Linked DNA regions of Homo sapiens. The protein of the gene in region 2 purifies or fractionates together with the protein of the main gene of each other region. This does not show direct contact. Each region holds a gene or a part of one and is shown on either strand. Other genes may lie near its edges.

The links.
Region 1: the proteins of PLEK (region 2) and ARHGEF1 purify together in Homo sapiens (affinity purification with mass spectrometry; one large-scale study listed by BioGRID and IntAct). This does not show direct contact.

The regions. Positions count from the first base shown.
Region 1 is NC_000019.10:41,885,884-41,889,697, forward strand, and holds part of ARHGEF1 (rho guanine nucleotide exchange factor 1), read left to right. Parts: intron 1-2,180; coding exon of another isoform or gene 2,181-2,199; coding exon 2,200-2,223; intron 2,224-2,308; coding exon 2,309-2,395; intron 2,396-2,868; coding exon 2,869-2,982; intron 2,983-3,814. UniProt on the Homo sapiens protein: Seems to play a role in the regulation of RhoA GTPase by guanine nucleotide-binding alpha-12 (GNA12) and alpha-13 (GNA13) subunits. Acts as a GTPase-activating protein (GAP) for GNA12 and GNA13, and as guanine nucleotide exchange factor (GEF) for RhoA GTPase.
Region 2 is NC_000002.12:68,385,500-68,389,313, reverse strand, and holds part of PLEK (pleckstrin), read right to left. Parts: intron 2,813-3,814; coding exon 2,628-2,812; intron 928-2,627; coding exon 823-927; intron 1-822. UniProt on the Homo sapiens protein: Major protein kinase C substrate of platelets.

The DNA.
Region 1 (3,814 bases), on a different chromosome or scaffold from region 2:
CTATGACTACAGGCATGAACCACCACACCTGGCTATCTTTTGTAGAGATGGGGGTTTCACCATGTTAGCCAGGCTGGTCTCGAACTCCTGAGCTCAAGTGATCCACCTGCCTTGGTCTCCCAAAGTGCTGGGATTACAGGTGTGAGCCACTGTGTCCACCAAATGCAGTTTATTTTAAATGCGTAAACTCTGTAGCCCAACTGCCCAGGTCTGAGTCCTGGTTCTGCCTCTTATGAGCTGTGCCTCAGTTTCCTTCTTTGTTAAATGGAGGTGAGAATAATAATGATCTCTTGGAGTCACCGAGAGGATTAAATGAGTTATTACCTGTCAACCAGCGATGCCATGCCTGGCACATACTAAGTGTCTCTTTTGTGTCAGCTGTCATTTCATTATTATTGTGATAAGGAATAAGGAGATAAGAACTTGGCAAGTGCACAGTTCCAGACCTGGCACCAAGCACTTGCAAAGATAATGAGTATCCCCTCCTTTGCCTTTTTAAAATTTCCCTGCCTCAGTTGAGCGTTTCTACCTCTGAGTGGGATGAGCATGCACCCTCCACGTCCGTGGTCATGTTTCATAGTGAGACAGGGTCTCACTGTGTTCCCCAGGCTGGTCTCAAACTCCTGAGCTCAAGCGATCTTCCCACCTTGGCCTCCCAAAGTGCTGGGGTTACAGGCATGAACCACCTCACCTGGCCAGTTTGCAAATTTATTAAAGTGAATGTTTAACAGTACTTGAATCTTGAATTGCCCAAGCTTAGATATTGGACAATACACTTTGTGGGAAATAATAAAAATGATGCCTTCCCCAGGTGGACCCACAGGGTGGCATTTGGACACTCCAGAAAGCATCATTGTTTAATCATCAAAATCCTGGTTACCATTTACTGGGGAGCTAGGGAGGAGGCCCATAAAGCAGGAGAAGGGCGGGTCTCTGCTGGCTTGGGTTATAAATAGCTTTGGGCTGTGGGGAGCCCCGCCGCTGGTCCACCCCACCCCTCTTTCCACAGCTCCTTCCCACCTGACACGGGCTCCGTGGCATTAGTCAGACTAATTAAGGACACAGAAGATGTCGGTGGAAAGACTCAGAGAGAAGTGGAGACTCAAGGAGAGACAAAGATGGGAGAGACAGCAAGAGATGGGGGAGAAAAAGGGATGGAGAGATGAGAGACAGCACATGAGACTGTGACTCAGAGAGGTGTGAGGATGGTGGCTGCAGAAACCAGATGTGGGAGGACAGAGGCACAGAGACAGGGACAGGACAGACGGAGCTACAGAAGCAGGAAGGGGGTGTCACCGCTGAGAGGGAGAGATGGAGGGAGGAGAGGCAGGGATGGTGGGGAAAATGAGACAGTTCTGGAGGAAGGGAAAGAGAAAAATCAGGAAACAGGGTGAAAAGAGACCAAGACATGAGACAGATTCAAGGGACAGACAGCCAAGGAGAGCTGGCTGCGGACAGACCAAGGCGCACGTAGGGTGGAGGGGACAGACGCACCTTGGAGATGGGCTGTCTGAGGCCCCATCACTTGGTTTCTGGGACTGGAAGCCTGGGAAGAGATGAGGTCCCTGGGGGAAAGAAGAACTTCTGGGTTTGGGGACTCCCAGTCCCTGAGGGAGGAGGGTTCTGAGTTTTGTTTTCTTATGTGGAGAGTTGGGGGTTGGGGGTTTGCCATTGTGACTTCCTGTCACAGGAAGTGGGGCTGGTGGGTTCCAAGGCAACATCCTGTCCCAGGCCTGTCACAGACCAGAGGAGACCCCTGCACCCCACTTCTCTCCCGCCTCTCCTCTAACCCTCCCATCCCCTCTTGCCTCTGGGCTGTGCCCTCAGGAATTAGCCCCCAGGCCCCTGGTCCCTCCAACCTGGGAGTCCAGGCCCCCAGCCCCCTCTTCCATTAGGGCATTAGGGACCCCAGATTGCAGGCTGTCAGACTCAGCCTTCCCATGGACCCAGGCTCCTGAGCCTCCAACGCCTGCCCCCGCAAGGCTCCCGTCCCTGGGCTCCCGCCCCCTGGCGGGTCTCTGAAGGGCTCTTTGTGGCCACACAGAGGCCCCATTGAGCTGCGGAGGCTGGGATGGGGGAGGCTGTTTACTCACCTTCACACCTGGGCCAGGAATCTGTGAGTAACCACCCTGGGCCGCCTCCTCCCACCCTCCTAACCACAGCCCCTCCTCTTCCTCCAGCCCTGCAGAGCCCAGGGAGATGGAAGACTTCGCCCGAGGGGCGGTGAGTGGACAGAGCAAGGGGTGAGGCGACTCTGGGGCTGTGGGTGGAGAGTCCTGTGGACTGAAGCTGCCCTCCCTTTCCACAGGCCTCCCCAGGCCCCTCCCGGCCTGGCCTGGTTCCCGTCAGCATCATCGGGGCTGAGGATGAGGATTTTGAGAACGAGCTGGAGACAGTGAGTGGGAGATAGGGTGGAAAAGCTCTGTCCCAGGCTCAGTGTCCCGCCCCAGGTCCCCTCCCACCTGCAGATGCTGTCTTCTTGGCCTTTTCCCACGGTCTGTCTCATCCTCTCATCTCCCTGGTACCTCCTTCCTCACCTCGCCGACCCCACACAGCAGCATAGACGCCCACCCTTCTTACTCTTAACCCCATTTCTTATCGTTGCTCTCTCCTCCCCCAGCATGGACCCCAATTTCTTCTCTCCTAATTTCTGTCCTCATCATCCACCATTATAATATTAAGTCTCATCCATTCTCCCTGAACACCTGCCCTTGCTGTCACCATCATTTTTTGGACACTGTCACCACTCCCCACTTCCCAGGAGCTAACCCTGGCTTGGATCCCTTGTGAAGTGCCAGGAATGGGTAGGGTCAACCCTAAGGCCCCTCCTCTTCTCCCCATTGTACTCACCCCTTCCTGCACCCCCAGAACTCAGAAGAGCAAAACAGCCAGTTCCAGAGCCTGGAGCAGGTGAAGCGGCGCCCAGCCCACCTCATGGCCCTCCTGCAGCACGTGGCCCTGCAGTTTGAGCCAGGACCCCTGGTGAGGGCAGGGCTGGGTGGGCACAGGGAGGGGTGGGGCTGGGACAGGCACAGCTTTTAGCGAATTAAACCAGCGAGCTAGTGCCTGGAGGGTCTGGAAAAGCAGATCTAGAACACAGAGAGCCAGATCTAGAAAGAGAGAATGCTTTAGACAAGAGCCAGAAAGCATGCCACGTGACCTCAACAGGCTTACAAGTGCCCAGGGTAGATCTCAGTGCGCAGCGGGCAGGGTACACACGTCAGGACCCCGCGGAGCCACAGAGAGTCCAGCAGCCTGGCAGAAACCACATCCCATCCCACTCTGTGCCTGTGGCAGCGCCCCCATCAGCCTGTGGCAGCACCTTTCCGTGAACTCTAGGGGACCAAATTCTTCTCTCCAAAGCCTTTTTGGCAGATGCCAGCACGCAGTCATTCACGGTTGATGGTTGGGAAAAAGAAGCTGTTAGCCATCCCAGGTCTAGGGAGCACAGCAGGCCCTGATCTGGAAACAAGAAAACCACCACACACAGCTCACAAGGCAGACCACACAATTGTGGATCCAGAAGCCTCCGGATGAGGCAGAAGATACCTGGGAGATGTGGATGGACAACCGTGCCATCCAGAAACACCCGCAGAGTCTAGAAAACCCAGCAGGTGATTTAGAAAGGGAGAGGCCACAGTGCTGGCTGGCAGGGGATCTGTAGACAAGGGTCTCATCCCAAGAAGACCCCGTCCAGCCCAGCACAGGATAGGAGGACAGCCTGGGGACAGCCAGGGCACTGCACCATGTGGACATGCATAGTGGACCCCTCCAGAAAACAAGGAAACCGATAGAGTGGGGAGAAGTGCCCGAG
Region 2 (3,814 bases):
ACCTTGGTCCTGCAAAGCAGCCTTGGCCTCTAAGATGCCTTGTGCAAGTATCAACTAGCTTCCCCCTGAATATTCTCATGTCTTCCTGCGACTTCCTCCACCAGGTACTGGTCCTGGCTTCCTCAGTCATCTTGGCCCCTGTCCATCTCTTACCTCTTGGCATCATATGCCTTGGCACCTGGTAACCGACTAGAGCTCCTCAGCACTCTCCAGCCCTTGCCTCCAAGACTGATGGTGGCCTGTACCTGTGGACACCTGGACATCCCCCCAGGACTCTGTCCATGCCCTCAATCTGCATTTGACTTTTGCCTGCTGTTCCTGTGAACTGGCCTCTGCATGCCCAGGTTTTGGTCTTGTCATGCCCTAAGCACAGACTGGAATGACTCTTCTTTGCTCTCAGTGGTGTACTCTGTTCCTCTTCTGGGTGTAGCCTGTTCCTGTTTTCCTGGTTGCTTTGAAGGGAGGAGGGACAGGTAAAATGGAAGTACTTTTACCATGAGACAGCTTTGTCTTTTGGATGGCATCTCTTAGACAATTTATCTCCTCCGGCCATATTTTTCTTGAAACACCTTTTTTTTTCCTATGATATTGATAAAAGAGGCATTTTCCTACTTTTAGGGACATCTTCTGCCCTGTCAAACTCAATCTTCCTGATCTAAAGCCACTTTGATATCTAAAGAGCTACTCATCTATCTTTCACTTTGTGGGTTTCATTTTCTGCTTGACTATTAACCAAACAAACCAAAAGTCACTGGGTAACTTAGAAACAAAAAGGACCTTGTAAAGGGAAAAGGCTAGATGGGAGCAGTTGTGGCCACTCACCTGCTTCAGTAAACATCCCTGCTTGATAATGACCCCTCTGAATTCTTCTTTCAGAATCACATCATCATCACTGGAATTCTCTTCACAGAAGAACCCACTGTCTGGCTGTTGGAAAATCAAACAGCAAGCTAACATCACCAGTCTTAGGCACATTGCAACTTGTGCCATCTCCATTCCCCCTCCCCTCCAGCCATGAGGGCAGCCTCCTCCTTTTTCCTCCATTCCTGTGTACATCCCAATCTGAACTTCAAAGGTCCTTGATGAGCGAGTTTCTCCTCCTCCTTTTACTTGCTTCCGGGGCTGTTCCTTTCTTGTCTCCACTCAGGTGTGATCTTGTCAATATCCTTTTATTCTGGAGGGTCTCCCAAGCTGTATCCTAACTTTAGCTCCATCTTCCTAACCAGGCACATGTCTGCCTTCAAAGCCTTCCTTCTCTTGGGATATCATGGTCACATCCTTGAAAGCAGGGCAGGCTAATTTCTCATTGGCAATACTATCACCAGCTCAACATTTGCCACTGAGCCCCCTCTTGGAGAAAAGTGACAGCATGTGTCCAGCCTCTTCCCCTGAGGTTATGAGGGAAGTGGGACTTGCTCAGCAAAAGTAGATGATGAATCAGACCGAGGAAGAGGAGCCACTGTGATGGGTATTTTTAGAATCCTGCATTGAAATGGCTATAAACGACCAGATCAAAGGACTGAAGAAAAAAAAAAAACAGACTGTGGAACTTCCCCTAAAGTGAAATGAAACCCTCTAGGGTGTTCACTTCATGTTTATAAGAAGAATGGTTCTCTTAGGTAACTTCCTAAATTCTGTGCTCTGATCCAAGATAGAAACAAAACTGCCAAAATCCCCCAAGAAATCCACCATTGCTCACATGGCCTAAGAACAGGTTCACATTGTATAATATAGTGTTTCCCAATCGTGGGTAAGCATACTGTGGGAGGTACACAAGATGACTGCAGGAAGTGACATCTGTGGACACATTTTGTATTAAGAGTCATGTGTTTTAACATACATTTGGAATAATGCACTTAATACATCAAACCTGTGATTTATAGACTCCTGTCTGGAAAGGAAGCTGCAGTAGGGCAGGATTTTTGCCTGTCCCTCCAGTACGCTTGTCTACGTGGCTGTATCTTCTTGTCTTAGAGAATGCTTGCCATGGACTAGGGTCTAAGACAGTTTTATAAATGAATTATTGCTTAGAATAAGAATAGATAGTTGGGAGGCAGAGGCAGGTGGATCACTTGAGGTCAGGAGTTCGAGACCAGCCTGGCCAACATGGTGAAACGCTGTCTTTACTAAAAATACGAAAATTAGCTGAGTGTGGTGGCGCATGCCTGTAATCCTAGCTACTCGGGAAGCTGAGACAGGAAAATCGCTTGAACCCGGGAGGCGGAGGTTGCAGTGAGCCGAGATGACACCACTGCACTCCAGCCTGGGTGACAGAGCAAGACTACATCTAAATAAATAAAAAATAATAATAAGTAAATAGGAAACAATAAACTTTAAAATGTCCTTTAAAAATTTTTTTTCAAGTAAACAGTAGTATCCTTTTATAATAACAAATTCACTTGGACAGGGCGAGTGTTGTAGAGAGGGCAGCTGTTGAGTTGGGAAATGCTGGTATAACAGAAGCTCTAAATGGGCCTGGGAGCTTCAGGTATTCCCTTGTTCTTCCTGGCTGACCTCCCTACCCGCTGCCTAACAGCGCTCTATAGATGTCTATGAACTGAAATCAATCTAGAATCTGCTCAGGGCAGCCTCCCTTACAGGAAGAAGAGATGGGGAGCTTTTCTTACAAAGTAGTAGAAGGCATCAGGGTTGTCCAGGAAAGGGTTTTCAGCAGTTCCATCCACTGCACTCTTGGACATGTCTCCAGCAGGCTGCAGATACCCCTCATTGAGCAGCGATGAAGCAATCATGAGGCCTTCCTGGCGATTCCTAACAGACTGGTTGGATACCAGCCAATCAATGACGCAGTTACCTAGATGGGACCAGCACAGGGAAGGTTAACTCTCCTTACCGAAGAACAAGCCCCTGACAATCACCCCTGAACTGACTCCAGCTCACCCACAGGTCTGACTTGTCTCGTCTCCCCTGTTATTTCAAGAAAGAGAAAACAAAATAAGTGGGATAGATACCCACTAGAAACAAACAAACAAACAAAAAACTATGTAAAGGGTTTTTAAGAACATCTACATGCTGCTTAAGAAGAAACACATGACCAGGTATGGTGGCACACCTGTTGTCCCAGCTACTCTGGAAGCTGAGGCAGTAGGATAGTTGAGCCCAGGAGTTCAAGACCAGCCCAGGCAACATAACAAGACTCCATCTCAAAAAATATGTACCCTAAAACTTAAAGTATAATAAAAAATAAATAAATAAAAACAAAAATAAAATAAAAAAATAATAACTTTAAAAATAAAAAAATAAAGTCTTTGTCTTAAAAAAAAGCAACACATGCATCAAAGAAATAGGTTTTACTAACCCACTCACTTATCCCATTGATGAACAAACATTTACTGAGCACCTACTCGATGCTAGGTACTCTACTGGGTGTTGGAGAAATTCCCTCAAGGAGTGTAAAAGGGCATGATGGGTGTAATAAATAAGTCTTGTAACAAGTGCTCTGCTATAAGTCAGTTGCGAGACTACTGGGTCAAATCTGAAGGTGTGAAAGAGGTGAAGGAGGTGAGAGAAGAGGGCTGTGCATCACCATCAGGAAAAGATTCATAGAGGAAGTGACACTGGGCAGAGGCTTAAAATATGAGTAGGCGTTTGCCAAGCATATGAAGCAGGATGCAGAGGAACCAGCACAAGCTGAGGGGGCAGCAGTGTGAACAGATGCACTCAGGCATAAAGCAGCCCCATGGGGCAGGGGAGGAGTTGGTGGAAAGAAGGCAAAAGGAAATAAGAGGAGGAGGGAGGTGAAGGGTGGGTGGGGAGAGCTTTGATGGCACAGTAAGAAATTTGGCTAATGGGAAAT